Regions from separate parts of the Homo sapiens genome. Here all the other regions are reported to be linked to region 4. Evidence: microRNA targets listed by miRTarBase, many of them from high-throughput screens and not tested one by one. Region 4 holds a microRNA gene; each other region holds the end of a gene's coding sequence.

Region 1 (7,306 bases), not on the chromosome of region 4:
TGGTCCAGCCTGGCTCAGCCTTTGTGCCTGAGAGGTGTCCTAGCACCCGTCTGCCAGGAGGCGGCACCATGAGCAGGTGCACTGGGGCATGGGGTGGGCTGGGGGCTGCTTCAGGGAACCAGAGGCTGTTTTTCCACAGAATGACCCGGACAAGGAGTACAACATGCCGAAGGACGGCACCGTACACGAGCTCACCAGCAATGTGGGTGCTGCCTGAGGACACCAGGGAGAGGGGAGGAAGGAGGGCCCAGGCCCAGGCCCAGGGCCAGGCAGAGTACTGGTGGAAGGGACTCAGCCTGGCCCAGAGCCGCTCGCACCTTTGTGAGCAGTCCTGGGTGGCAGGATGGACAGTGACATGTTTAGTGTCTCTAGCAGACAGGGCCTTTCCTGGCAGGCTAGAGTGAAAATGAAGTTTCCAGCCGCGCTCTTCACTGGGCGGATCCCAGCCCTGGGCTGGCCCTGGGCACTCAGAGGGGTCGCTGTGGGAGGCCGTCGGCCGGGCCTGCCACTTGCCCTTCTGCACCGTTTTCTTCCCACCCAGGCCATCCTCTTCCTGCAGCAGCTTTTGGACTTCCAGGAGACGGCAGGCGCCATGCTGGCCTCCCAAGGTACTGGTACCTCCCAGTTGGGCCCCCTGCCCCACTCGCCTCCTTGCCTGGAGACATGGGGTTAGAGGGCAGGTAGCAGTGAGGAGGTATCTCCAGTCTGTGGAGGGGTTGAGGTGTGCTCAGCAGAGGGTCCCTGGGGCTGAGCATCAGGAGAGCAAGGTTTGCCTGCACCTTTCAAGACCAGACACTGGACCTCTGGCCCCTCCCTCAGCCCCTTTGACCGTCCTCGCCCTGGAAGCAGTGTCCTCACTCTGGGAGCGGTGCTGGTTGGTTGGAAGGTGTCCTTTCTGCCCCTGCCCCCCTCCCAAATCCTTCTCTCGTGTCTGCCTGCTCTCCTAATCAGGCTCGCTCAGCTGGCCTTCAGAGGGTAGCAAGTGTCTCAGGGCCCGCTGGGCGTCTTCCTGCTGGCCCTGCCCTGGGACTGGAGCTCAGGGGGTTGGCCTGTAAGCAAGAGCACCTTTCTGGGTCATTCCAAGCACTGAGGTCCCTGGGCCCTCTCCTCCCGTCCCATTTTGGGGGCAAGGAGCCTGTGGGCAGCCTCCAGCCTGCAGTTCTCAGCTCTCTACTTTCCAGGGTGTTCCCTGGTCCTCAGAGGGTCCCGCCTGCTGTGTCTTGCTATCTGTGTTTTGGCTGTCGTGGGGAGAGGTCTGCTTAATTCGGGTTGACATGCCGTTTCTAACCTGTTTTTTGCACTTTGCATCTTTCTCCCTCCTTTGTCTCTCCCTCTGTCCCCTCTGTGTGCACTGCCTTTCACTCCGTAGTTCTTGGGGACACATACAATATTCCTTTAGACCCCCGAGGTAAGCAGTGCGGTTCTGCAGCCCCCTCCTGTCCCTCTGAAGCTTGGTGGGTGAGGTTCCCTGGGGACTGACTCTCAGTACCTACTGGGGAGCCTGAGTCAGAGGGGACATGAGTTTTCTCGGGGTGCTCTCAACTCTCTCTGCTCCCTTCAAGGCCACTCTGTCTCTGAGCTTATCCGCAGCACCTGCCCAGGCTAGAGCCCTGGATACACCCCCTAGGCTCGCCCGGCCTCCCTGCCTTGCTGTCCCCACTCGGCCTTCCCCACTGTGCAGGCCGCAGCTTCGTCTGTTCAGTAGGGTCTGGTAGAGGGGATGTTCGAATGTAGGGGAGAAGGTGGAGAGGCTGTGGGGAGCCCATTCTAAGACTCTGCTGTTGACAAAAGGAAAAAGGGGGCCTTGTAGAAACCACCCAGGGTGGGTGGGGGCAGGAGGGGACAGGGCGCTGGCATCTCACTCTTTTCCTGCCAGCTTTTCTGCTGACATGGGCCAGCTCCATCCCATCATAGAGGGCAGCTCTGGGTTCCAAAAACTCCAGGGCTGGTGCTTCCTGCGGCAGGGGCCACCCTGTGGCTTAGCAGGCAGCCAGCTCTGCCCAAGGAAGCCCAGGGCCTGTCTCAGTGTCCCCTCAGACTGCTGCATGGCCTGGGGGAAGGGCCGTTGAGGGTCTTGGCTGCTGCCACTGCAATAACAGGACTTCTCCTCTCACAGAGACCAGCTCTTCGGCCACCAGCTACAGCTCTGAGTTCAGCAAGCGGCTGCTAAGCACCTATATCTGTGAGTGTTCTCCCGGGCAGACCAGCAGCCCTGCTGCCTGCATGCCCTGCCTTTCCCTTCCTTCTGTCTGTGCTCTCTGGCTATTCCCAGGGCCCTCTCCTAAGTGCCATCTGATCTTTGGAACCACAACCTGACCTCTAGTTCAGAGGCTGAGGGGAGTTGGGCTAAGGCCTCCTGAGGCAGGACGAGGAGCGATGGATAGGAGCGCGTTCGCGGGTCCTGGGGTGGGGTCGTTTGGGTCAGACTGCCATGGTGGGTGTGGCCCCATTTTTCCCTGTGCAGGTAAAGTGCTGGGCAACCTGCAGTTGAACTTGCTGAGCAAGTCCAAGGTGTACGAGGACCCAGCTCTGAGCGCCATCTTCCTGCACAACAACTACAATTACATCCTCAAGTCCCTGGAGAAGTAAGTGGCCTGCGGGAGTGAGTCTGCGGCTCTCACCTTCCCCTCGGCTGTGCAGCTGTGCCAGCCCCTGCCCCCCTGGGCTCCTTCTCTTGTGGACGAGAGGGGAGGGGGTGCTTCAGTCTCCTCCACCCCAGGACCCGGAAGGTGGGATGCCATAGAGCTTGTGGAGTTTGGGGTGCAATGGGAGGCCCTCCCGGCATTGCCGCAGCCTTTGGGCCTGAGGAGCCAATCCTGTCCTCCTCTCCTCTGTCCCCTACCCCGACCCAGGTCTGAACTGATCCAGCTGGTGGCAGTGACACAGAAGACTGCTGAGCGCTCCTACCGGGAGCACATTGAGCAGCAGATCCAGACCTACCAGCGCAGGTGAGAGGCTGGGCCCGCCCTGCTCCTGCATGGGCCCCTGTGCCACCACGCACTCTTCCTTCTCAGCACCTCAGGACACAGAGTCGGTCACGGGGAACTCCTGTCCTCTGGACCCTAATCCTCCACTTGGTTTCTAATCAAACTCACGGGGTGGAGAGAGAAGCCCCCTCCTCTACCACTACCTGCTCCTAGGGGCCCACTATGGCCACTTTAGAGGGGAGTCTGCCAAGTGTCAAGGCTAAGAATGATTGAAGAGCTGGCTCTCAGAGACGTGGGTAATGTTTACCTAGGAGAAGAGCAAGGTCGCGAGAGCACTTGAACGTGGCTGAGCCTTGCTCTGTGAGGATCCCGCTGCTTCTCTGGTCCTCTTTCTTCCTGGCTTTGTTTCTTCCCTTTGAATGTGTCTACCTCTTCCTTCTCATTTATCTGCCCTCCACTCCTTTCTTTCTCATCTGTTTCTCCATCTTAGTTTGCCACGATATTGATGTGAAGTATAGTTGACAGTATTTGTCCAATTTATTGAACACTCAAGTGTTTCCTAATGTTATCTCAAAAAGTGACCAGTTTAAAGATTTTCTCTTCCCAGGAAGAAAACCTGTTGTTTGCTTAGTTGTGACCCACATCCCTTCCTACCACCACCCACCAAGTAGATCCAGAGATTTAGCAAACGAAACAAGCCAGGCCACTGAGGCAGGCCACCCTCTGCCCTCATGCTTCTCTTTCTGTCTGGCAGCTGGTTAAAGGTGACTGATTACATCGCAGAGAAGAATCTACCTGTGTTCCAGCCGGGAGTCAAGGTGGGCTCAAGACCTGGGCTGGGAAGGGGTGTCTGGCAGACGGGATACTTTTTGTCGTGTCTCTGGGAAAAAGTGGACAAGCATCCCTCTGGGATCAGAGAGCAAAGGATGCATGTGGCCATCAGGACACAGGAGACAGGCCCAGACCAAGGGTGTTTGGGGAAGAGTGGGGGAAGGCTGCTCTGCTCTGAAGTGAGCTTTCTCTGCTATCTCTCCTGGCTTCCCAGCTCCGGGACAAGGAGCGGCAGATTATCAAGGAGCGTTTTAAGGTGAGTCGGGGTCCTCTCCCCTCCACTGCTTGCTGCTGCTGTTGAGGCAACACAGACCCAAAATGTTTGTCTCTGGGTGCCTTCCTTTTTCACCTTTTTGGTGGCCAGGGCTTCAATGATGGCCTCGAAGAACTGTGCAAAATCCAGAAGGCCTGGGCTATTCCAGACACAGAGCAGAGGGACAGGATTCGCCAGGCCCAGAAGACCATTGTCAAGGAGACCTACGGGGCCTTTCTACAGAAGTGAGGCCTCCATTCCCCTCCCAGCCTGTGCTGCCCACAGCCCCAGTGGGCCTCTTCAAGCTCCTCTTCCTCAAGGGAAAAAGGAGAAGGGTGGTGGATTTAGGCAGCAGATCCAGCGACCTGGGCTTTGGGGCGGGGCCAGACAGGGAATCGCTCAGGGCCACCCCTTCCAAGACTATCAGGAGTGCCTTAGGCTGAGGGTGGAGCTGGGGAGGGGTCGGCCCTCCCTGTCCCCTGACCACAGTGCCTCCTCAGGTTTGGCAGCGTGCCCTTCACCAAGAACCCGGAGAAGTACATCAAGTACGGGGTGGAGCAGGTGGGCGACATGATCGATCGCCTTTTCGACACCTCTGCCTGAGCCTGCTGCTAGCCCTGCCTGGTTCCACCAGACTGGCGTGTCATTGGACAGATAAACCAGTGTTAGCTTGCCTCTGGGCTGGGTGAGCTTGAAGTCCTCTGGGACAGAGACCTGTCTCCACGCCTCCGGGAGCTGTGTCCCTGAGCCCCCTAGTCCTGGCTCCTGCTTTTTCCCCACAGCCCGTGTTCCCAGCCGAACCAGCACTCTCCCGGAAGCCTGGGGTCCCTCCACACCTTGGCTTTTATGACCCTGATGGCTTCTGAAACAGGAAAAGAGAGAAGGAAGACAGAGGCCTGTGCCCACTGCTGCTCCATGTGTACCAAGAGCAGCAGGGCAGAAGGGCCCTCCCTCCAGCCTAGGTCAGAGGTGGGGACAGAGAACTCCCCTACAGCCCAGAGATGTGGCAGGGCTCAGAGAAGCAGCCAGAGCTCCTGGAGGAAAGGCAGTCGGGACTGACCCCCTCTCTTAAAACACATTCCCGCCCGCCCACAGGCCTGAGGTCTGGGACCTTTCCCTCCCAGGAGTCCCCTAGGTGGCTGGGGGAGGCAGGCTCACTGGCCATTTTCCCTAGAGTCCAGCACACTGCAGGAGGCGTTCGGAGGAGGAGTTCCGCCCCACCCTCTACAGCCTTCCTCAGGCCCCTGTCTCTGGCCCCCAGCCTCAGTGCCTCTTGGCCCAGGGCCAGGCAGTCGTGGTTGCAGAAGGAGCAATTAGGCTGCCTGCCTGTGGGCTGGGAGACAGGGACAATGGGGAAAAGTTAAGGAGCAAAATGGGGGTTGGAAGCAAAAAATAGGGCCCCACCTATTTAGGACGAGATTGAAGACTGACCCTTGAGGCACACTTGCACTGGAGATGGGTTTATTTCACGCTCTGTGCTTGTGTGCTAGCGGAGGGAGAGCTCAGGGTGGCTTAATCCAGAGGCCCTGTCATGGCCCGCCCCCAGCCATGGGAAAGCAAACTTCATCCTAAGGTGTGCAGCCCAGGCCCTGCCCCTTTACAGTCTAGGCCGCCTGCCATGGGGTGCAGCCTCTCCAGGGGCTGCGTCAGACTTGCACGCTGCCCACATCCAGATTCCTGCAAAGACGAATTGGGTGCACAGCACCCCAACCACATACACGAGGAAGAAGATGCGGTCAGCAGTCTCAGGCCAGCTTCTCTGTGACCCCTTTACTCCTCTGGAGGGCTCTGTGGGGAGAGATACAGGGAAAGGAGCTGTTCTTCAAGGTCCCCTCAACATGAGCGGAAGAGCGAACCCCAGGGGTCATCAGCCTGTATCGCTTCCTTTCTTAGATTCTCAGCTGATGAAAATTTGGGTCTGGCCCATTTCAGGCCATCTTCAGTTGAAGAAACACCCTCTTAGGCTGTGCAAGGCATGGGTTATCAGGGGATTGAGGTCACCTGGGACTTCAGGGAGGCTCAGCTTGCTCCCTGCCCCAGACCTGTTTCTTCTAAGGGAGGAGGACATGGTGGAGACCAGGGACAGGAGAGCCAGCAGGGTGGATGCAAGGGGCCTCTACCCACACCTGGACCTCCGTGCCCTCACCCCAGCCCTAGGTGTGCACCTAGGCCTCATTCCTTACCCCCCAGCCCCTGCCCACCTTCAGCAGGATGAGGCCCTGGGTTGCCGTGCTCTCGCTGTTCCCCTCTCGGGGCTGGGCTGGGGCCGCTCTTGGCCCCAAGGTTGCCCCGGGCCAGCAGCCCAGCCAGCAGCACAGTCTCTATGGTGCTGAGGAAGAGCAGCAGCAGCAGGATGGTGAAGTAGTAAACTGGGGGAGGCAGGGCACAGGGAGATGCTCAGGGGCCAGTCCCTGTGTCTCTGGTGCCCAGCGAGCTGAGCACCAGTGGGTGACCGGGGAGAAACAGGGCAGACTGGGTAAGGGAGCAGGGCTTACTGAGCAGTGGGTTGCAGGAGGAGGAGCTGGGCAGGGCCTGCACCAGGGAGGAGTGGAGGACGAGGTAACTCAGCAGCAATGTCACCTTGTAGCCTATGCGCTCAATGGCCCGGAGGGGCAGCAACCCCCCGCACACGTCAGCCAACAGCAGTGCCTCTGCAGGCACCAAGAGAGCGATGATGGACTTGAGCGCCGTGTTCTTCAGCCTCAGCTGGAAGGGGAAAAGTCAGGGCCTTCCCGGCGGGGGGGAAGGAGGTGGGCATCGGGGGCATGGGGCCTGGCCTCTGGCCGTGCATCCTCACTCCCACCCGCCTCCAGCAGCCCTCTGTCGGCCTCCTCCCGACTTGACTCACCGTCACCTGGAAGCAGGGCACCAGCTGCTGGGGTGGGACTTGGGTCTTCAGATCATAAACTACGTATTCCCTCTTGACACTCACAATCTCGTTCACCACGTGGGCCTGGAACTCTAACTCCATCGCTGAGGGGTGGGAATGAGAACTATGAACCAGGAAGGAGAGATCCCAGCTGCCAAGTCTGGGGGTAGCAGACTGGAGCCCAGGGGTGATGGAGACTTTTGATGGCTTTTGGCAGGGACAGACTTGGACACAAAACCGATCCATAGAAGGGCTTCCCAAACCTTGTTTTGCAACATCCCAAATTGTCTCCAGTTGAAGGAAGGCCTTTATCAGATTCATAGATGAGCTTTCATTGTAAAAATAAATGTACTTTGCACCACTTCATGATGGAGGGAGAAGTGGTCACAGGCTCGTCAGTCTATCATCTCACAGCTGAAGCAGGAT
Region 2 (7,306 bases), not on the chromosome of region 4:
CAGGGACCAGCAAATGTGCCTTGGGGGCTGGATCTGGCCCACTGCCTGCTTTTATATGGAGCTGTGGGCTAAGAATAGTTTTTGCATTTTATTTTTATTTTTACTTATTTTTTATTTTCATAGGTTTTTGGGGGAACAGGTGGTATTTGGTTACATGAGTAAGTTCTTTGGTGGTGATTTGTGAGGTTTTGGTGCACCCATCACCCAAGCAGTGTACACTGAACCCAATTTGTAGTCTTTTATCCCTCATCCCTGTCCCAGCCTTTCCCCTTGAGTCCCCAGAGTCCATTGTATCATTCTTATGCCTTTGTGTCCTCGTAGCTTAGTTCCCACTTATGAGAACATTTAAATGGTTGAAAAAATCCTGAAATAAGAATAGTATTTTGTGACATGTTAAATTTGTATGAAATTCAAATTTCAGTGTCCACTGTAATTTGGTTTATGACATCTATGGTGGCTTTTGTGCTGGAACAGCAGAGTTGAGTAGCTTCAACAGAGACCATATGTACTGCAAAGCCTAAAATATTTCCTATGGAGCCCTTTACAGAAAAAGTTTGCAGACCCTTGTGCTAGCCCATGAAGGACCATGACAGCGTTTTGACGCTGAGCTATATAAGAGCTACAGTTATAGTGGCAACCACACAAAGGAAGTGCCTCTTAACAGAAACATTCCGCCCACCCCTATAGGAACTGCATTCTGAGTTGCAATACCCATTATAAGCAAGTTGGCCAGATAGTGGCCAACTATCTGGCAGATATCTGGCCAACTACGTGGCAGATAGTACCTGGTACATCCTTCCCCACTTTGGGGTCAATCTTGACCTTTGATCTCCTTGGGGTCATAAAGCCACACAAGTGTTAGTAGGCATTTCTACAGTGGACACAATGGATGATTTAGCCTAAAAATCTCAAAAGGAGCCCAGCATCCTGGCACATGCATGTAATCCCAGCTACTCAGGAGGCTGAAGCAGAAGGATCCCTTGAGCCCAGGAGTTCGAGACTAGCTTGGGCAACAATTGAGACCCCATCTCAAAAAAAAAAAAAAAAAAAAAAAAAGAGTGGGGAAAAAAGAACATTATTAAAAAAAAAAACCTTAAAAAGTAATCCAATCTACCGATGGTTTATTTTTTATTTTATTTTATTTTTTTTGAGATGGAATCCCACTCTGTCACCCAGGCTGGAGTGCAGTGGCACAATCTTGGCTCACTGCAACCTCCACCTCCTGGGTTCAAGTGAATCTCTTGCCTCAGCCTCTGAGTAGCTGGGATTACAGGTGCCCACCACCAAACCTGGCTCTTTTTTTTTTTTTTTTTGTAATTTTAGTAGAGACGGGGCTTCACCATGTTGGCCAGGCTGGTCTTGAACTCCTGACCTCAGGTGATCCACCTGCCTCAGCCTCCCAAAGTGCTGGGATTACAGGCATGAGCCACCGTGCCTGACCCACTGATGGTTTGAATTATTCTAAGTTCGCCACCGTCCAATCCTGTTTGCTCTGGGCTTTTAGGTTCTAAGCTGTGCCTCTGTCCATGTAAAGTCAGACCAGGAGGAATGGAAACACGAAACATTGCCATTGTGTTTCCCTTTGTGTTGCAGTGGTGGTCTCAAGGAAAACGACGTCATAATCAGCATCAATGGACAGTCCGTGGTCTCCGCCAATGATGTCAGCGACGTCATTAAAAGGGAAAGCACCCTGAACATGGTGGTCCGCAGGGGTAATGAAGATATCATGATCACAGTGATTCCCGAAGAAATTGACCCATAGGCAGAGGCATGAGCTGGACTTCATGTTTCCCTCAAAGACTCTCCCGTGGATGACGGATGAGGACTCTGGGCTGCTGGAATAGGACACTCAAGACTTTTGACTGCCATTTTGTTTGTTCAGTGGAGACTCCCTGGCCAACAGAATCCTTCTTGATAGTTTGCAGGCAAAACAAATGTAATGTTGCAGATCCGCAGGCAGAAGCTCTGCCCTTCTGTATCCTATGTATGCAGTGTGCTTTTTCTTGCCAGCTTGGGCCATTCTTGCTTAGACAGTCAGCATTTGTCTCCTCCTTTAACTGAGTCATCATCTTAGTCCAACTAATGCAGTCGATACAATGCGTAGATAGAAGAAGCCCCACGGGAGCCAGGATGGGACTGGTCGTGTTTGTGCTTTTCTCCAAGTCAGCACCCAAAGGTCAATGCACAGAGACCCCGGGTGGGTGAGCGCTGGCTTCTCAAACGGCCGAAGTTGCCTCTTTTAGGAATCTCTTTGGAATTGGGAGCACGATGACTCTGAGTTTGAGCTATTAAAGTACTTCTTACACATTGCTTTCTGTAGTGCTTATTTTCCTTTCCCAAGAGCAGCTTGTTGCAGTCTTTTTGGAATGATTCTAATGTCAGTGGGCCCCTCATTAGACTGCATTGTCCACGCAGGTTTGAGCTCTTAGTCTTATGAGTTATTTCAAAATCATCCCATGGGATTTACCAGGGTTATGAACAACTCTGCTTGGACACCCTGGCTTTATGAAGCAGGACTTGAGGACAGTTGCACTCGCATCCGGAGCTTGTCAAATGAAAGAGAGTCTGTTGACCTCATACAGCATGCAATTAGTCAACAAAGATTTTCTGGGTCTCTGCTCTGTGCCAGGCATTGTAAGTGCGTGGTCAGTGAGAGCAGGAAAGACGCAGGCTCTCCCTCTGTAGAGCTTCAGTTCAGAAGCCAAGTCTCTTTCTGAAAGGGAGACAGCTCAGGAGACCAGGATGCAACCCCAGAATGGGCCCAGAATGCACACGGCTGCAGCTGACCTCATTTGTCCTGGGTTGTGAAATAAGAACTAGGCCTTAAGCCTTGGTGAGTTTAGAGGAGGACTCCCCTTGAAGTGCCCTCAAACAGGTACAGCTAGAAGCAGCTGTAGGCACCTTTATCTCCATGAAAGCTTTCCGAAAGTTTGGGAAGCTGACCCAAGAGGACTTGCACAGCTTTAGCTTGGAAGTTTGCACAGACCTATGTCCCTGTGGGGAGCACACACCAGAGAGTATGCTGTTTATGCCAAGAGCAGCGGGTCAAAGCTTTCCAACTGTCAGCAGTTAAAAGGAGGGCCTTGGACCGGATGGAGGTTCTGTTCTCCCAATTGAGAGCTGAATCCTTCCTCCATCCACAGAGGCATAAGGTCCAACTCATAACTGGGGAGGCTGCGGAAGGCCGAAGGGCCAACTTAAATGCAGGGGCGGTCCAGTTGAGCACAGCCCTCATCAGTGTTGGTGCTCGGCGGCTGAGCAGCTTGTGGCCCGTTGCAACACTGGCACGTCTCTTCGCTCTCTGGTTGAATGACCTAGTAGAGTCAGGAAGGAACCAGCGAGTCCTTTGGCTGTGGGAGTGTGTTTTGCATTCCCTCCCTTCTCCATTAAAGGTGATGACTCAGAATGGCTTGTGGCTTCAGGGGTTCATTCTCAGATGTTTTGTATGTGGGCCTGCTTTCCTGTGTGGTCCCCGGAGCTGAGGTGCTGCCACAGGTGGGGAGGATGCCGTGGGTGGCATTGAGGTCAGACCCAGCCCCGGCCCGAGCCTGTCTGTCTTCAGCCTGTTAGGCATCCGGGAGATCACTGATGGTTCTTCTGGAAGAAACTAGCCTGGTGATGGACCAGCCTGAGGCCTCTGTAAACACTCTGCAACATCTCTGCAGGACACTGGATGGGGTTGGAGTTTTGCCTGCATATATGGTCACATACAGGACAGAAATGGCAGCTTGCCACATTGTTGCATATGACATGTTTGGTTACATGGTTGCACTTACCCATGAGACCCTGTGTCCCATGGGGGCTGCTTGTCCTGGAACCCCCACCTCACATTTGAAGACCTCCAGAATAGTTGTTTCTTCTGCTTGCTTTAGGCTGTGATGCAGGGTTTTGCAACATAAATTAGTCTTAAAGCCTGGAGGCAGAGCACTGAGTCGAAAGAGCATGGCTTTTGGAGTTATAGATGGATTTGGGTTTAAATCCAGTGTCTATATATCTTACTGGCTGTGTGACCTTGAGCAAGTCCCTTAACCTCTCTGTCTGTTTTTCATCTGTAGAATGCCCTCAGTTGGGTCCATCTCTGCTTCCATGGAGCTCAGTTTCTAATTCTTCTTGGCCACTTCTGGTCCCTCCAAGGTCACTTTAACAGCCCTCTGGCTGGTGGGCCCGCACCTGCCCCCTGTTCTGGCTCCTGGAGAACTTCCTGCTTACCAAATGTGGGCTCAGCAGTGCCTCTTCCAATCCCAGCACCCTCAGCTCTAGTCCTCTGCTTCCAGCTTCTGCAAAACTGTGAGCCAACCACATGGCTGGGCTTCCCCAGCACATCTGCATCACGTGACTATCCCCATCCCGCCCTGCCAGATGCTTCTCTTGATGCACTGGCCAGCAGAGAGGCCCTGGTGTGCAGGGGTCTCCTTGCTGTGTCTTTCAGGCTTGGCTGAGTGAATCTGAGATGGGCAGCTCTCTACAGGGAGGTCCTCTGTCTTTTTTTTTTTTTTTTTTTGACAGGGTCTCGTTCTGTTGCTCAGGCTAGAGTGCAGTGGTTTGATCATGGCTCACTGCAGTCACGACCTCCCGGACTCACGTGATCCTCCCACCTCAGCCTCCAGGGTAGCTAGGACTACAGCATGCACTGTCATGCCCTGCTGATTTTTGTAATTTTGGTAGAGGTAGGGTCTCGTCGTGTTGCCCATGCTGGTCTCAAACTCCAGAGCTCAAGCGATCTGCCCACCTCGGCCTCCCAAAGGCAGGAGCCACCATGCCTGGGGGGTCTTGTCTTTTCTGACTCCATTTCTCCATCTGAAAATTTGGAAGAATGCTCCTGTCTGGTGGGCGTGGTGAGGAGCAGCACATGTTGTTATCAGAACCTGCACAGTGATTGTCTCCACCTGGTTAATATTTTAGACAGGTCTGAACCTTGGATGATAGCATTTCCATGGGCTGGCAAGGATGCTTGGCCCATTTCAGCAAATACCACTGAAGTCAGCGCCAGGCCTCGCTGAGGTTGTGTGGACATATATCTGGGTGAATGGGCCAGTCCAGTTCAAGTTTGCACCCCTGAAGGTGGTTATAGGTAAGGTCAGAGGTATGACAGAGTCAGAGTGGCTCAGTGCCGGGAGGGCAGGTAGGTTTCTGCCATCCATCCTGCCAACGCTGATCCATTGGTGGGAACCATCTAGAGCACTGGGCTGAGGCAGATTGTGAGGCTCAGTGTGAAGGAGCTTAAAAGAGACCTGTGGCCGGGCGTGGTGGCTCATGCCTGTAATCCCAGCACTTTGAGAGGCTGAGGCAGGTGGATCAAGGAGTTCAAGACCAGCCTGGGCATCATGGTGAAACCCTGCCTCTACAAAAAATACAAAAATTAGCCAGGTGTGGTGGTGTGTGCCTGTGGTCCCAGCTACTTGGGAGGCTTAGGTGGGAGGATCACTTGAGCCTGGGAAGTCAAGGCTGCTATGAGCTGCGATCTCACCATTGCACTCTAGCCTGGGTGACAGAGAAAGACCCTGTCAAAAAAAAAAAAAAAATGGAGACCTGCTGTCTGGGTCTCCCTCTCAGTTCCCTGACCTTCTGATGAGGTCCCTGCTCTGGGTGTGTGTCCGGCGTCAGCTCCCTGGTTGAGTCCGGGGAGTAGCCGAGGCTGAGGAGTCTGGAGCAGGCTCGTGGGAATAGGCGGGCTGCCCTGGGGGCTGCTTTTTGCTGCACTGCGCCCACCTCCAGGGTAACTTCCTCAGGAGATGGGACTCTTTTCTATCCTTGAGGCAAGAGGACAATCAGATCTCTCTTGGAGAGCCATTCCCATTTAGAGACACGTGTTTTTGGTGACCTTTGTGAGCGTTCTAGCCTTGGAGCCCTGCTCACTGCTGCCCTGGACCAGCTGGGACAGGTGCGTGCATTGATTAGCATTCTGGAGCCCAACAGGTGGGCACTGGAGGCTTCCTTGCCGTGGTAAAGGGAAACCGGTGAGAGGGGGCGTCATGTCATCCAGGGGAGAGGAGTGATGTTAACAATAGAAATGGCAGTGTCACATAGTAAATGCTACCGTAGAATGAGTGTGGATGTGGCGTGCAGGGTGTGGAAGGTGGCAGCAGGCGCTGTCGCTAAGGCTTTCTGTGGCAAGCACAGTACAAGCATTTTACACACATATCTATCTCACTTAGTCCCCTCAGTAACACCAAGGAATAGAAACTATTATTATACCATTTTATAGACGAAGGAATGAAGGCTCAGAGAGATTAAGTAACTTGCCCAAGGCCACTCAGCTTGTCTCTGGCGGGGGTAGGACATGTCTTTGTGGGGAAGTAGGGAGGAGAGTGGGGAGAGTGGGGGCCCCAAGTCCCTGGCCTGGTGTATCTGACCAGAGGAGACAAGTGCTCCCATGTCTGGGACAGGTCAGGAGCACACAACTCCGGCTTGCCTCATCCCCAGCCTCCCTGGAACAAGACTAAACACCTTTCTGGGACATCTGAGCCCCTTCCTGACTTGGTCCCCACTTTCCTTCCACTCTCACCTCTCCATTCCTCTCCTGCTCTCAATGTTCTGTCATGTGGAATTCACTTCCATTCCTTGAACAGGCTGTTCTTTCTCCTGTCTCCACACCTAAATCCTAGTACCCTCCCTGCCCCGTGCATGGAAGCTCCTCCCCATCTCTTCACCATCTGCCCCACCGGACTCCCCTGCCAGGAGCTCGCACGCTGGCCATGTGCTGTCCTAACTGCCTGTTCCCTTGTCGGGACTCACTCTGGGGCTGCAGCTCCACAGGGCCAAGTCCATCATTGAGGCCATAGGGCTGAGCCCAGCCTGCAAAGCAGGTGTCAATCAATACGGATTAGCTGACAACTGAGGTGGGCCCACACCTCCCTGGACAGTCACATCTGCCACTGGAGGAAAGAATCCTCTTAGCACGCATTCTTTCATGGAATCCATCTTTTTGCATAACCACAGTGCACCCAGGACTGTGCTGGGCATATTGGGAGTGGGGGTGTGAGGAGGGGGTGAGGCTGGGGAGGGACAGAGTGGGGCCCAGAACAGAAGGAGGCCAGTGGGGTGCCCAGGGGCTAAAGCAAAGGGGCCTCACTCTCAGAGTAGTGCAAGTGGGTGGTTTGTGAGGAATACACAACAGGACCTGTGAGAGCCTCACATGTTGACCTCGGAAGGGAGGGGGACCTCAGGTGGAGGCAAGAAGGGATCTCTGAGTCTACCATTGATCCCCTCTTTCAACAGCTGCTCTCAAAACCACTGCGGGCAAGGCCCAGTGGCGGGAATGCTCCTGATCGTGGGTTCAGTCCCGGCTCTGGGCTTTACTGACCAT
Region 3 (6,986 bases), not on the chromosome of region 4:
CAGGACGCCAGGCCCTCGGCCTAGACAAGGAGAGGAAGGAGCTGCTGCAGCCACCTAAGCTGGGGAAGACAGTTAAGCAGGAGGTGTGGACTGCGCTCAGTGTCTGGTCGTGGACACAGCAACACTTACACCGAGGGAATGAGCACAGCTCCTCAGCACTCAGCCACTCAGCCTCCAAGACACCGGCTCTCCTGTTTCATAGCCACTCTCTCAACCTCCTTTGCTCCCTAACCTCTAAACACCTCTGAGGCATCCAAGCAAAGGTGTCAAGAAATCAGCTGAGGGCCGGGCGCGGTAGCTCATGCCTGTAATCCCAGCACTTCAGGAGGTCAGGCAGGCGGATCACCTGAGGCCAGGAGTTTGAGACCAGCCTGGCTAACAGTGAAACCCCATTTCTACTAAAAATACAACAAATTAGCTGGGTGTGGTGGCACGTGCCTGTAATGCCAGCTACTCAGGAGGCTGAGGCAGGAGAATCGCTTGAACCCGGGAGGTGGAGGTTGCAGTGAGCCGAGATCACGCCATTGCACTCCAGCTTGGTAAACAAGAGCAAAACTCCCGTCTCAAAAAAAAAAAAAGAAAGAAAGAAATCAGTTAGGCCGGGAGCAGTGGCTCACGCCTGTAATCCCAGCGCTTTGAGGGGCCAAGGAGGGTGGATCACTTGAGGTCAGGAGTTTGAGACCAGCCTGGCCAACATGGCGAAACCCCGTCTCTACCAAAAATACAAAAATTAGCTAGTCAGGCGTGGTGGCGGGCGCCTGTAATCCCAGCTACTCGGGAGGCTGAGGCACAAAAATTGCTTGAACCTGGAGGTGGAGGCTGCAGTGAGCCGAGATCATGCCACTGCACTCCAGCTTGGTAAACAAGAGCAAAACTCCCGTCTCAAAAAAAAAAAAAAAAGAAATCAGTTAGGCCGGGAGCAGTGGCTCACGCCTGTAATCCCAGCGCTTTGAGGGGCCAAGGAGGGTGGATCACTTGAGGTCAGGAGTTTGAGACCAGCCTGGCCAACGTGGCGAAACCCCGTCTCTACCAAAAATACAAAAATTAGCTAGCCAGGCGTGGTGGCGGGCGCCTGTAATCCCAGCTACTCGGGAGGCTGAGGCACAAAAATTGCTTGAACCTGGAGGTGGAGGCTGCAGTGAGCCGAGATCATGCCACTGCACTCCAGCCTGGGTGACAGAGTGAGACTCCATCTCAAAAAAAAAAAAAAAAAAAAAAAAAGAGTAGTCAGGTGGAGAGAGCCAAGAGGGCTTTAAGAATGAGGGAAGGAGGCCGGGCGTGGAGGCTCACACCTGTAATGCCAGCACTTTGGGACACCAAGGCAGGCAGATCATTTGAGGCCAAGAGTTTTAGACAAGCCCGGCCAACATGGTGAAACCCTGTCTCTACCAAAAAAAAAAAAAACATTAGCCAGGCGTGGTGGCATGTGCCTCTAGTGCCAGGTACTCAGGAGGCTGAGGTGGAATTGCTTGAACCCGGGAGGTTCAAGTGAGCCATGATCGTGCCACTGCACTCCAACCTGGGTGACAGAGCAAGACTCCGTCTCTAAAAAATAAAAAAAGAACAAGGGAGGGAGGCATCAGCTATGTCAAACACAAACAGCTACTGGAGTAAAATGAGGACGAGAACTGACTGGGGGATTTGCAGATGCTGAGGCCATGGGTGACACAGACAAATGAAGAAATGAAGTTGGTTACTCCTAGAGGAAGGGATGCAAGAAGCGGCATGTTTTCTAGAATCACTGCAGGAAGAGCTGCTTCCTTTAGAACAAACCAGTAACAAGATCCCTCTTCTTTTCCACACCAGGGAAGTTGCTAAGTATATGCCAAAGCCAGGCATACTCATTCATAGACAGCCTCAGGCTTCACAGCCCAGAATGGGTGTGGACTTGGGGGCGGGAGGTAGGAAAGGAGATGTGGGCACCTCGTGGAGCTGAAATGCCACCCATCTCCCAGACCCTGGGCCGCCCACACCACTCACTCCTCCTTTCCCCACAGGACTTTTAGTGCACTCCAGACAGAGCTTCACAAGAGTCAGCATCATGAACATTTATTATGATTATTTTATTTAAAAAAAAAGCCCCACATCTCCGGGCAATAAACTACAATACAGTAAAAAGTAGCATCTGGTGTTAAGACACTCTGCCGACAGGCTGCATGCCTTCAGTGCCGGCAAAGGCTCTGCACAGACATCCACAGTATTCCACACTGCCTCCCCCATTTCAGAAGTCCCTACTGAAATGAGAAGGACACTGAGGCACACAGGGGAAGAGAATGGCCTGAGGTTAGACTGCCACGAAAGGCACGTGGGAACTGGGCCCAGAAAATTCCAACCGTTCCATACAAAATGCTACCCAGCAGGGAAAAAGAGTCACTGTCTTCTTCCAAGTGACCAGTAATGCCACACTCATGGGGCAGCAAGAAGGGTGGCAAGGGAACCAAGCCCTGACCTGAGCCCAGTGATCAGGCCAGAGCCCAGCCAATGGGACTCGCCCACAGGTCCAGGCTCACCCCCTCACCTCCACCGCACTGCCCTCACTCCAAAGCCCAGCCCTCCTTGCGGAAGACCAGCTGCACAGCCTCATTCACGTCATTCACCACGTGGGAGGCCTCCATGAGCCCTGGACTGAAGCATAAGTCTCGGTGCCCGTGGAATGGAGGCTCCCCTCCTCCAAGGACAGGCTCCGTGGACTGTGGGTTCCTGGGATTGTAGACGCCTGTACACACCAGGATGGAGATGCAGCTCTGGCTTGCTGAGGGCTGTTGCTGCCGTGTGCCCCCGGCCCCTAGTTCTGGCGCCCCATCATGCGTTGCCTTCTGCAGGTACTGGTGGAACAGGTTGGCGCCGTATACGTCAGACATAGGGTTATCACTGGCAGGGGCAGCCACACCGGAAAAGGAAAAAGGAGAAAAAACCCTAAATCAATGTTGCAAAGCAAAGGGAGCAGAGAAGAGTTTCGGGGCAGAAGAGTGAATTAGATATAGGGAAATGGGGGTGAGAGTAGAGGAGGAGGGAGAGAAGGGGATGTCATAAAAGGGACAAAGGAGGGAGAGCAGAGCCTACCCCACAGCATAGAGCTTCCGGATGGGGGCGGCCCAGCCCCGCCTCTCCGCCTGTCGCCTGATCAGGTCCTCGGCATACTGGTAAGTGAGGATGCTGGGTTTGCCCATCAGGCCCTCGTATCTCAGCTCCTTGCCCGTCACTTTCTGGTAAATGGTTTCCAGGCACAGCAGAAAGGTGCCATGTCCAAACCTGCCAGAAACGAGCACGCAGCAGTTCAGTCTTCCTGATCTCCAGGCTCTTCTAGAGAACACGACTGCCACTGTCTAAGCAGCAAACACACAGACCAGCCTTTTCCCCAGGGTAAGAGCTGACATGTAGCAGACACTGTGCAGGCACTGGAGGCAGCATTTCACATTTCCCTCTCAGAAAAACTCTATGAGATGACGCTATTTGTAAAACGAGGAAACCAAGGCACAGCAAGATTAAGTAACTTGTTCAAGAGGGCAGAGCTAGGATTACAACTCAGTCTGACTCCAGAGCTTAAATCCTGCTGTAGAGCTGAGGCAGACTACGGTTGCGCTTCTCCCCTTCTTTGCTGGTGTCCATTTTCAGCTGACCATATTGCCACTAGGTGTGAAAAAGACCTTCGCTTGCCTCCCTGCCAGCGAGGCGTGGCCATGTGACTAAGCTACAGTCAAGGAAAGCAGAAATGCTGGGCTAAATTTTCAATAAGCATCCTTAAAATTGGGGACAGGCGGCCAGGCGCAGTGGCTCATGCCTGTAATCTTAGCACTTTGGGAGGCCAAGGCAGGTGGATCACCTGAGGTCAGGAGTTCAAGACCAGTCTGGCCAACATGGTGAAAGCCTGTCTCTACCAAAAATGCAAAAATTAGCTGGGTGTGGTGGCACATGCCTGTAGTCCCAGCTACTTGGGGGGCTGAGGCAGGAGAATCACTTGAACCCGGGAGGCGGAGGTTGCAGCGGGCCAAGATTGCACCACTGCATTCCAGCCTGGGCAAAAGAGCAAGACTCCATCTAAAAAAAAAAAACAAACAAACTGGGGACGGTATTCTTCTCTGCCCTCTCTGCCCTCCCCAACTCCTTCTTGACACCTGGAATGCTGATATGATGGCTGGCGCTTGGGTACAATCTCAGCTCACTGCAACCTCCACCCCCTGGGTTCAAGTGATTCTCCTGCCTCAGCCTCCGAGTAGCTGGGATTACAGGCACCTGCCACCATGCCCGGCTAATTTTTATATTTTTAGTAGAGACGGGGTTTTGCCATGTTGGCCAGGCTGATCTTGAACTGACCTCAGGTGATCCACCCACCTCGGCCTCCCGAAGTGTTGGGATTACAAGCATGAGCCACCACATCTTTCAGTGTCATTTATGTAAATAATTCTACTTTTAATTAGAAAAGTTCATCTAAAATCTGGTTTGTAAATTGAAATCTGCCCCTTGCTTTTCAGTTCACAGAGACATAACCAACCAAGCCCACTGATCTAGTGTCAGCATACCCGCCTCTAGGAATAATACTTCAGAGACAATGCCAAGCCTCGAGCCACAGACATACACTTTAAAAGTGACAAGAGCATACCATACCCCGTCTCTCTGGGACTACTGAGACGGGCCCTGAGGCAGTACTGGGCCGTGCCCACCCTCTGCTGACGAGCACTGTCGACTGGGGGTCAACAGCAGGCTGAGACTCAAGAGACTGGCCATGCAGATAACAGCAACCGAACAGTACACAGCAGCTGTCAGCTGGCCTTCAAGTAAGCACCCTGAGGCCAAAAAAGGGCTGCCTCTATCTGTGCTAGCCCCAGAATAAGACAGGACACATGACACCAACACAGCTGAGCAGGGAGTATAGGCACCTGCATGCCCCTGAGAAAGCCACTTATCTGCTGGGTCTCAGTTCTCTGGTCTATACGACTATCAGAACAATCCTTGGCCGGCATGATGGAGCACGCCTGTAATCCCGGCACTTTTGGAGGCTGAGGCACGGGGGTCACTTGAGGCCAGGAGTTCAAGGCTGCAGTGAGCTATGACTGCACCACTGCACTCCAGCCTGGATGAGAGAGTGAGACACTGTCCCCGCAAAAAAAACAAAACAAACAAAAAACGACAAATCCTTGCTTCCTCCTGCCTTATGTCTGAAGGGTAAAAGGAAACCAGAAAGTCAAAGAACCAATGCTACAGGATGGAGCCAAGGAAGGAAGAGCAACTGAATAATGTGCACAGATACGGTACAAAAAGTGCCCACGGTTTGGGATCCACCAGACACCAAGAGCATGTTCTGTAAAGATTACAGGGGGCAGGGGTCACGTGTGAAACATCCTCTCAATACATCCTCAGACTCCATAATCTGTAGTTTAGGTTTAGTAACTAATATGTGGAGTGGTCCTTGAAAGCCCTTCCAAAGGCCAGGTTACTGCAGCAACAACAGGGCCTACCTAAGTGAGGTCCCGGCACCTGGGGTGTCAGGACGGATGGGAACTGCCTGCAGGACTGCCCAGGCAGCAGCCAGGAATAGACCACCAGGCCAAGGCTGGGAGCTTTGTGTCCTCACCTGGGCATCTTGGCTTCAGCCATCCACAGGAGATCCATGTTGCTGGCTAGGACGGGGAGGTGGGGGTAGGGGGGTGTTGCCAGGCCAGCCCCAGGGCTCCCATTGCTGAGGAGGACATCCATGATCAGCTGCAGGCTGGTCTCCCAGCGGACCGGCTCCCCTAGGAGGAGCACCCCTTTAAAGAACAGAGGCGCAGGTGAGGGCTGCAGGGCAGATGGCAGGCGGCAGGCCCTCAGGATGCCAGCTAGGGCTACCCATCCACAAGCCCTCCACCCATGGTGCACCCAGCTGGGCAGGGGCACAGCTCCCCAACAAGCCCAGTAGAGCCCCTTACCCATCCACCCTGGGTGCACAAGGCCCAGGGCCCAGGAAGGAGATTCCTGAGGGCTCCCATTCTGACTTCAGTCCACCAGTGCTTCACAGAAGAGGTTACAAAACAAAAGCAGCATGTCTCAGGGCTACTTCTCCTTGCTGGCTGGGACTCTGCCACCACATTCTCCCTCACATGACTTAGCAAGGGCTCCTGTTCCCTCAGTCGCTTCTCTCTGAGCCCCAGGGACTGGCAGAACCTAACAGCCAGGACAGGGGGTGTGGAGTGATAGAGACTTGAAACCCAACCTGGACTCCACCGATTCTCCTGTATGACTGTGGCCAAGTAACTTCTCTTCTCTAAGCCTCAGTTTCCTCAACTGCAACTACATAACAGCAACAGCACTTAGCTATTGTGAGGATAAAAATGAGCTACATCATCGGTAAACAGCCCAGGACTAGACACACAGTAAGCACTAGGCAAAGAACACTGCTGACACTAAGGTACAGGGCCGGTGAACTGCACCAGACCAGTGATTCTCCATGGGGCAGCACCGCCCCTGCTGAGGTGCTTTACAAATCAGAGGCAATTTTAGTTGTCACAATGACTAGAACCTAGCAAGTGAAGGTTGTGGGAGGGGGCCAGGGACGCTACATACTCAGGACAATCCTGTGCAATCAAAAACTATCCCACACTAAAATTAATTTTTAAAAAAACCATCCCATGGCTGCGTGCGGTGGCTTGTGTCTGTAATTCCAGCACTTTGGGAGGCCAAGGTGGTAGGATTGCTTGAGCTCAGGAGTTTGAGACCAGCCTGGGCAACATAGTGAGAGCCCGTCTCTACAAAACAACAAGAAGAAAAAGAAAAAACTTTCCCATGTCCTCATAACATTTGAATGTCCCACCTGATATCCTGGTATCCACACAGGTGAACAACCTTTTCAGAATTACTTGAACGATTCTATTTTACATACAATCACAAAGCATTTTTGTACAGCTTCAATAAACATCAATTTTTCCAAAAATACAACTATCGTGTAAGTCAAGAGAAGACTGTACTTTGCCTTTTCAAAACTCTACCAAGAACTGTTACCTATTTTGGAA
Region 4 (7,306 bases):
TAAAATACAAAAAATTAGCTGGGCGTGGTGGTACGCACCTGTAATCCCAGCCACTTGGGAGGCTGAGGCAGGAGAATCACTTGAACCCGGGAGGCGGAGGTTGCAGTGAGCCAAGATCATGACATTGCACTCCAGACTGGGGGACAAGAGCGAGACTTTGTCTCAAAAAAAAAAAAACCACCAAAAACCAAAACCAAAACAAAACAAAACAAAACACTACAGTAATAGAAAAAAAAAAAATCCTTATGTGAACATTATTTCACTTACTCTTATTGCTATGGGAGAATTTGAAACCCAAAGTGGAAAGTTAAACTCTTATGTGCAAGTTTTTCCTGCTGGTTTCACTGTTTTCCAGTTATTATTAGTAGAGAACCACATGCTCAGTCAGCTTTTTGTGCTTGTGTCCCATGTATGGACTCTATTATTTTTCTTTAAGCTCCCTTTTCACGTTTCCTCACTTTCTTGAGGTATTTGCTATCATCTATTTTCAGAAAATTTCTAATATTCTATGTTCTGTATATATTCTTCAGTCCTCTGACTTGACTTTTTCCCTCATATTCCTCTATTTTTTTTCTCCTTAATTTTTTAGCTACTGGGTCCATCTAACTGATGACAGTGAATACGAAAGGCTTGGTCTTGAATTCCGTAAATTTCTGGGGAAGTGGGTCAGATCCTAGATAAATCTCTTAACATTTTGCAATTTTTTAAAACCATCCTTAGTTTGTAACTTAAACACAAACGCGCGCGCACACACACACACACACACACACACACACACACACACATATACATATATATACCTTGTTACTTACCCCTTCCTCCAATCCAAACACAGACTCAGTCTTGCTCATGCTCCAAGAATTTTTGTAATGACTGGTCAGGAGGAATCCCTCTAAGATGAGGAGATAGGCAGTCAGAAGCCTAGGTGGGCTGGGCGTGAGAGAAAACCCAGGAACCCTGGTTCTTTGGGTCGTCACCACGGGATTGATTATAGTTAGTTTGGAGCTAGAGTGTCTTTGGGGAGATCTGCTATGGTAGATCATTTGATTTAAATGACTGAAATGTAAAAGTTTGAAAGTTTGTGTTTAACACTTAATGCATAATAGACATTGTGCTTTTCACATGCATGATTTCATTTAAGCCTACATCTTATGAAATATGAAATATATTCATCATTTTATTGATGAAGAAATTGAGGCTTAGAGGAAGATTAAGTAACTTTCCAAAGCTTCATGTGAGTGTACCCAAATGCTCTTCAAATAAGGCATTTCCCAGCACAGCTTTTCTTTAAGTGCCTTTGTAATGTTTATAGCTTTTTATTGTAACAGCAGGAAGGTTATACTACAATAGTTTATTCCAGTCCTAATGTTCTATGACTTTGTGTCTTTAGGCAGCAAGCAGGATTTTGAAGAACTGGGACTCAAAGCAAGGAGTCCTCTTGTAGATATACAGTGGCAGATAAAATGAATTGAACAGACACTTTTTTTTTTTTTTGAGATGGAGTCTCACTCTGTCACCCAGGCTGGAGGGCAGTGGCACGATCTTCGTTCACTGTGAACTCCACCTCCTGGGTTCAAGTGATTCTTCTGCCCCAGCCTCCTGAGTATCTGGGATTACAGGCACGCACCACCATGCCTAGCTAATTTTTGTATTTTTAGTAGAGACGAGGTTTCACTATGTTGGCCAGGGTAGTGTAGAACTCCTGACCTCAAGTGAACCACCCGCCTTGGCCTCCCAAAGTGTTGGAATTATAGGCGTGAGCCACTGTGCCTGGCCTGAAGAAACACTCTTGAATGTGTTCTACCTACATGGGAGCTCCGTGGAGCCACAAGCTCATTCCAGGTGTTAGGAGAAGAAATTTGTGTTGGCAGCACATACAACTTGAACAGAAAGTGAGGAGAAGAAATTTGTCTTGGCAGCACATACAACTTGAACAGAAAGTGGGGCAAAGCCAAATGGGTATTCTTACATGAGAATACTGTGTCCTAGGAGTCAGGAATGTTCCCTTTAGTGTCCTCATAATTTTCTTCCATTGTCTTTTTTTGGCAGATAGCTTCTGGAATTATAATTTGTACTTTGCAAAAGAAAATGGGCCATAAAAATTATTTTAAATCAACTAAAGACTCATGAGATTTATTTGGTTACAGTGAATAACCTGGACAAAATGTTGAGAAGAGTTGTTAAAACAAGTTTACATTAAATATACTAACAATTACGTTTGGTTACATATTTGTAAGTGATGGTTATTTAGAAAAACTGCATAGAAATCCAAACCTTAAATATTCTGCAAATCAAATCATTAGCTTTTCTCTTCTCTAATAAAGTAGGGTGACTAGTTCTTGGATTAATCTAACTATAACATTAATGTAGCACTTGATTATCTTATGGAATAATTCTCTATCTCATCTAAGCCTCACAACAACCTTGTAAAGTATTATCCCCATATGGAGGAAGAAACAGGCTTAGAAGTGGAAAGGTAGATTCTCTGCTCGCACAACCGTATTATGTGGCTAAGCTATTGAACTTGAACCTAGATTTGGGACTTCATTTCAAATATGAAATTTTTTGATTAAATCTTTTTATCTTGTATGGAAAAAATATCTCATTAGCTGTCAGATGTTATTTACCCTGCTAACTGTTAAAAATATTTCATTAAAAAAATTCAGCTTCATAGCCTTTCAGTTTCCCTTTAAGAGTCAAATAAAAGTATTAATTTTAAACTGAAGTTGCCTGAACAGAAAATCGTTACCTGGGGGAAAGTACCAGTTTCTAAATCTTTTAAAAAACGTTGCCAGACAATCCATGATATAACTGGAGGTTAGTAGTCCTTCTAATTTTTAACTACAAAAATATTATAGAAATTTGTGTTTAGCCCACATTTCTAACAGTTGAATCAAAGGTGTTTATGAACATTATAATGAACAAGCCAAAACCTGCAATTAAGAATGACATGAATATATTTTCTGTTAATGATAAAAACAAACATGGGCTTGACATTTAAATGAAAATGTTTGCATTTAGGATACTACTGATAAATCTTTTAAATAACCTTACTTTCAAAACTTAGTTTAAGGTTGAACATCCCAGTGACCAGATTATGATTAACAGATTGAAAAATGATAAAGCCTGAAGTCTAAGTTTATCCAGCAGGGTGACTCATGCTTCTTTGTCATCCTCCCACGGCAGCAATTTGTTCCATGTGAATGCTAGTAACAGGCATCATACACTGTTAATGCTAATATGTAGGAGTCAGTTGGAGGCAAAAACCCCTATCACGATTAGCATTAACAGCATACAGCCTACAGCAAGCCTTCAGCACTCAGAGGATGAGGCATAAAGAATTTAAACCACAGATTTCCCCTTCCTGGTTTGTGCCACCTGCAAGAGAGAAAGAAATGTTTGTGTATGCACATGCGGTTATAAAGCTGGAGTGACAGCATATAGTAAATCTGAAAGGAAAATAGTCCATTTTCTGTTGAAAGGAAGGAGCTCATTAAATCCTTGGAAGTAATTTTTTGAAAGTGGTAGAGAAATTGGCAATTAAAAGATGACATTGTTACCTTTAGGCATATTTGAAGACTTTGAAAATTATGTTTTAAATTCTATTCTCTAGTTTTGAATCGGGTACACATATGTATCATCTTCTTTAAATAAAAAACAAAAACCGCTCTTCGGAGTTTTCAAATGCCAAAATGCAAAGAGGAAAGCTTGCATTCTGACACAGTACAGTTTTTTTTTTTTCTGATTTGTACTTCATCTAGGAGCTAGACAATTAAAGGCCCAAATGTTCAAAATAGTCCTTTATGATTTATGAAAATTAAAACCCAATTAACCTGTTTTATAAGGGTAGGGTTCAGGCTGAATTTTTCTTTCTGTAATACATAGTTGAAGTTTTACCTTTATTCTTTCAGGAAATGTGATACAAGCAATGGAGGTTTGCCTACAAACGAATCTATCTGAAAATGTCCCCGTCTACTATTTAGAGATTCCTTTGGGGAAAGCACTACCCAGTGGCTTTGGTTTTGACTACATAAAGGAAGTATGACTTAAAGAGTCCTCTGTGTTTCAAACTACTTGTCTTAGGCAGAGGGTTGATTAAAAAAAAGAACAAGATGAATTTGCTACTTCCTTTTAGAGTCTGATTTTACTCTCTCAGATAAAGTGACATTTCTCCCACAGGTTTCTGATTTCAGTGTTACTATAACAGAACCTAGAAGTTAGAGTATCATTCAAGTATGTGGTCTCCTGCAGTACAAGAGGGGAATCACCTTTTCTTTTATTTAATAATGAAACCAGCTAGATATAAAAATGTGACTAAGTTCAAAAGAAACGTATGAAGTAAAAAATTCCCCAGTGAATATATTTTGACAGGGCAGAATATCGTGGTTTGGAAATTTCCAAACCAAGGAAATATATTATTCTTACTGATAGTATTTTTTTTTAAACTTTACTGTTTTCTGAGATGAATTAGTTGATGATGAAAAAATTTGGGTTAAATGATGTCACTTCAGGAATTCAATTCATTTTACAGAATTTCAGTCAATAAAGATTGTAAAAACAAGGACTTTTTTTCCCCCTTACAGGGTCCTGGACACAGTAAATGCTCAATAAATACATATTAATAATGTAGTGTTAGTGCCACCCCAGCCAATATAACTCGCCCTTTTCTTAAAAGATGTGTTTAATTTGTATTGAAGGTAAATTGCTGGCATACTATTCTACCCATAAATTTTATTCCTGTTCTTTAAAGATAACATATGAGCACAGGTATTAAAATAAATATATTTAGTATACTAATTAGCTTTTTCCCTCTTTTTAAATATACATACGAATTGCCTGATTAGAGCACTCAGAAAAGTGACAGTGTTTTTGATAATGTGTTATATATATTAAAAATTCTAATAGCTTTTTTTATTTGTTCAAACTCTAAATGTATATTGAAATAAAACATGTCACACAGGTCCCCTTTTGTTCTCAAACACAACCTTGTCATACAGGCATGATGAATTCCGAACACTGCAGAGAAATGAGAAGTTTGTCTAAATATACTATAGAACCTTAGGTCATATTTAAAACACAATGATAGATGAAAAACATTAATGAACAGAAGAAAGGAGAAATATCCCAGAAAAAAAAAAAAATATATATATATATATATATATTCTACAATTTAAAAATAGTAGACTTTTAAGGACATTAGAATGACTAGAAGGTCATTCATTCATCAGTGTGGAGTCTATGTCCACTTCCAGTGTTTTTGACTGGGCTAAGCAACCAACAACAGAATTGCTATATGCCTGAGTGGGAATTAGTGGTCATAGACAACAAAGGCCAGTCTATTAGCCAAGGCACTGGGCAGAGGGTGCTTTCATGAGGTAATAAGAAATAAAGTAGTTCTTTCTGGAATCGGTGTGGCCACCAGCTGGTAAAGTGGCAGGGGAAGAATTATACACAATTATAGGCCTGACAATCAGTAGTGACAGTGCTAACCAAGTAAGAATGTGACAAGCATAATGTTTAATGTATAGCAATGCAAGAGTAATTTATATGAATTATATATTAGAAATTAGACTGGGGTCTTTGACTAGGTAGTTCTGCAGATATACTTCCAGTCCCCTCACTCCACAATACTTCTTAGGCCTACCACATGAAATATCCATTGTCAGTATAAGTTTTACTGTGTAGCATAGGTTCCAAGTTAAATGTTCTTAACAAATTACTACACACTGTCTGAGTATCAAAATCATTCCTTCTCACAGTAGGTAAAAATCTACCAAGAGGAAGCACTATGTATACTAGATTAATGATAACACCAAGGATCTTTCATTATATGACAGGCAATTCTTCCTCTGGTGCTAAGAATGAAGCTGAAGGTGGCACTTTGGGAAATTTTTCCTTAAATTATGCTTTCCTGAAGGACAATTTTTTTGGGGGGGGTGGAGTGTGAGCATAAGATTTAAGAATATCTGGCTGGGTGTGGTGTCTCATGCCTGTAATCCTAGCATTTTGGGAGGCCGAGGTGGGCGGATCATGAGGTCAGGAGTTTGAGACCAGCGTGACCAACATGGTAAAACCCCGTCTCTACTAAAAATACAAAAAAATTAGCTAGGCGTGGTGGCGCACGCCTATAATCCCAGCTACTCAGGAGGCTGAGGCAGGAGGATCACTTGAACCTGGGAGGCAGAAGGTAGTAGTGAGCCGAGATTGTGCCACTGCACTCCAGCCTGGGCAACAGAGCAAGACTCTGTCTCCAAAGAAAAAAAAAGATTTCAGAATATCCTTTTATTCTTACCTTGTTGATTTGCCAGGAAAGACGTTATCAAAACTATATATTCAGAGCATAATATGTCCTAAGTTTGTCATTAAAGTTCTGGTTTTCCTTCAAAAATTTTTTATTGTGGTGAAATATGTAATGTAAACATAATGTAAGTTTAACATCTTCACCATTTTTAAGTGTACAGGTCCGCTATATTAAACACTTAGTCATAATGTTCTACAACTATCATTATCATCCATCTCCATAACTCTTTATCTTGTAAGGATCTCATTTTATGTCTAAATCATAGGTTATATTCTTCTACAATTATATATATTTCTATATTGCTGCTTATTCTCAGCACCAACCATTTAATATTTGCATACCAAAGGAACTGCACACCATAAAGTTTTCTTTAAAAAAAGTTACAGTGGTCGAATTTCATAACCAAAGCGATTGTGGGATAGCTCTAATTTTATTTACCTTGAAATATACAAATAATTTAAAACTATTAATTTGTTGTTACAAATCAACTGTACATCTATTTTTACTGAAAGTCATCTTATATTGATGTAGCAATACAAATTCTAGGTCCAAAGCCATTTTAGTAGGTGAAATGGAATGTAATTATGTTGTTGAAAATTAAAGTGATTTAGTTTAGGTAACTTTCTCTGCATATTTTCCCACTTTAACATTTATGTGTACCAATCAAAAACATAATCATTAAGATGGAATAATGTTGATTCCTATTTGGATCAGTTTGCTAAAAGCAATTAGCATATACTTGTATATGTGGAAACAGTATCTGCCTTTTCTATCAGAATTTATTCTGATTCTCTATATTCTGCCGCTGCAGTTTTGGTTTACATCATGGAAGTAAGCAGTGATTAATGCAAGTGTATAAAAATCAGGATTCTGTGAAACTTTGGACTTGTCATAATCTTTAGAATAACAACGATTTCTTGGTTACCTTTTGAGGTAGAATCAAAAGTTGAAAGCGGCTGCCAACTTGGTGCCCCAATGACCTGCCTTTATAAAAACTGCATCTGT

The links. The annotated mature microRNA hsa-miR-155-5p reads UUAAUGCUAAUCGUGAUAGGGGUU and lies in region 4 at 3,265-3,288, opposite strand. An mRNA with a match to its seed (bases 2 to 7 or 8) in the 3' UTR can be bound and repressed. Matches are read on the target gene's strand: a 7mer-m8 pairs with bases 2 to 8, a 7mer-A1 pairs with bases 2 to 7 and ends in A, and an 8mer does both.
Region 1: the mRNA of EXOC7 is a reported target of hsa-miR-155-5p. The part of its 3' UTR that is shown has no 7-base or 8-base seed match.
Region 2: the mRNA of HTRA1 is a reported target of hsa-miR-155-5p. The part of its 3' UTR that is shown has no 7-base or 8-base seed match.
Region 3: the mRNA of HDHD5 is a reported target of hsa-miR-155-5p. The part of its 3' UTR that is shown has no 7-base or 8-base seed match.

Annotation. Positions count from the first base shown.
Region 1 is chr17:76,080,956-76,088,261 of GRCh38, reverse strand. EXOC7 (exocyst complex component 7) reads left to right here. Exons shown (of 19, transcript NM_001013839.4): 11 at 140-202; 12 at 542-608; 13 at 2,117-2,182; 14 at 2,465-2,585; 15 at 2,853-2,948; 16 at 3,682-3,745; 17 at 3,973-4,014; 18 at 4,123-4,256; 19 at 4,512-7,246. The coding sequence ends at 4,614. It overlaps ZACN (zinc activated ion channel), which reads right to left. Exons shown (of 9, transcript NM_180990.4): 6 at 6,860-6,984; 7 at 6,507-6,717; 8 at 6,213-6,380; 9 at 5,456-5,799. The coding sequence ends at 5,609. Among named protein-coding and RNA genes, the nearest start is that of ZACN, 5.4 kb to the right of the region's middle. RefSeq lists a silencer at 6,968-7,168 and an enhancer at 7,253-7,306.
Region 2 is chr10:122,512,598-122,519,903 of GRCh38, forward strand. It overlaps HTRA1 (HtrA serine peptidase 1), which reads left to right. Exons shown (of 9, transcript NM_002775.5): 9 at 1,594-2,310. The coding sequence ends at 1,762. Among named protein-coding and RNA genes, the nearest start is that of DMBT1, 45 kb to the right of the region's middle.
Region 3 is chr22:17,135,487-17,142,472 of GRCh38, forward strand. It overlaps HDHD5 (haloacid dehalogenase like hydrolase domain containing 5), which reads right to left. Exons shown (of 8, transcript NM_033070.3): 6 at 5,573-5,747; 7 at 3,064-3,252; 8 at 2,034-2,871. The coding sequence ends at 2,535. Among named protein-coding and RNA genes, the nearest start is that of LINC01664, 17 kb to the left of the region's middle. RefSeq lists enhancers at 2,152-2,859, 2,860-3,566.
Region 4 is chr21:25,569,965-25,577,270 of GRCh38, reverse strand. It overlaps MIR155 (microRNA 155), which reads right to left and starts at 3,291; the gene lies at 3,227-3,291. MIR155HG (MIR155 host gene) reads right to left here. Exons shown (of 3, transcript NR_001458.3): 3 at 2,103-3,378. RefSeq lists enhancers at 1,025-1,074, 1,467-1,616 and a silencer at 3,168-3,347.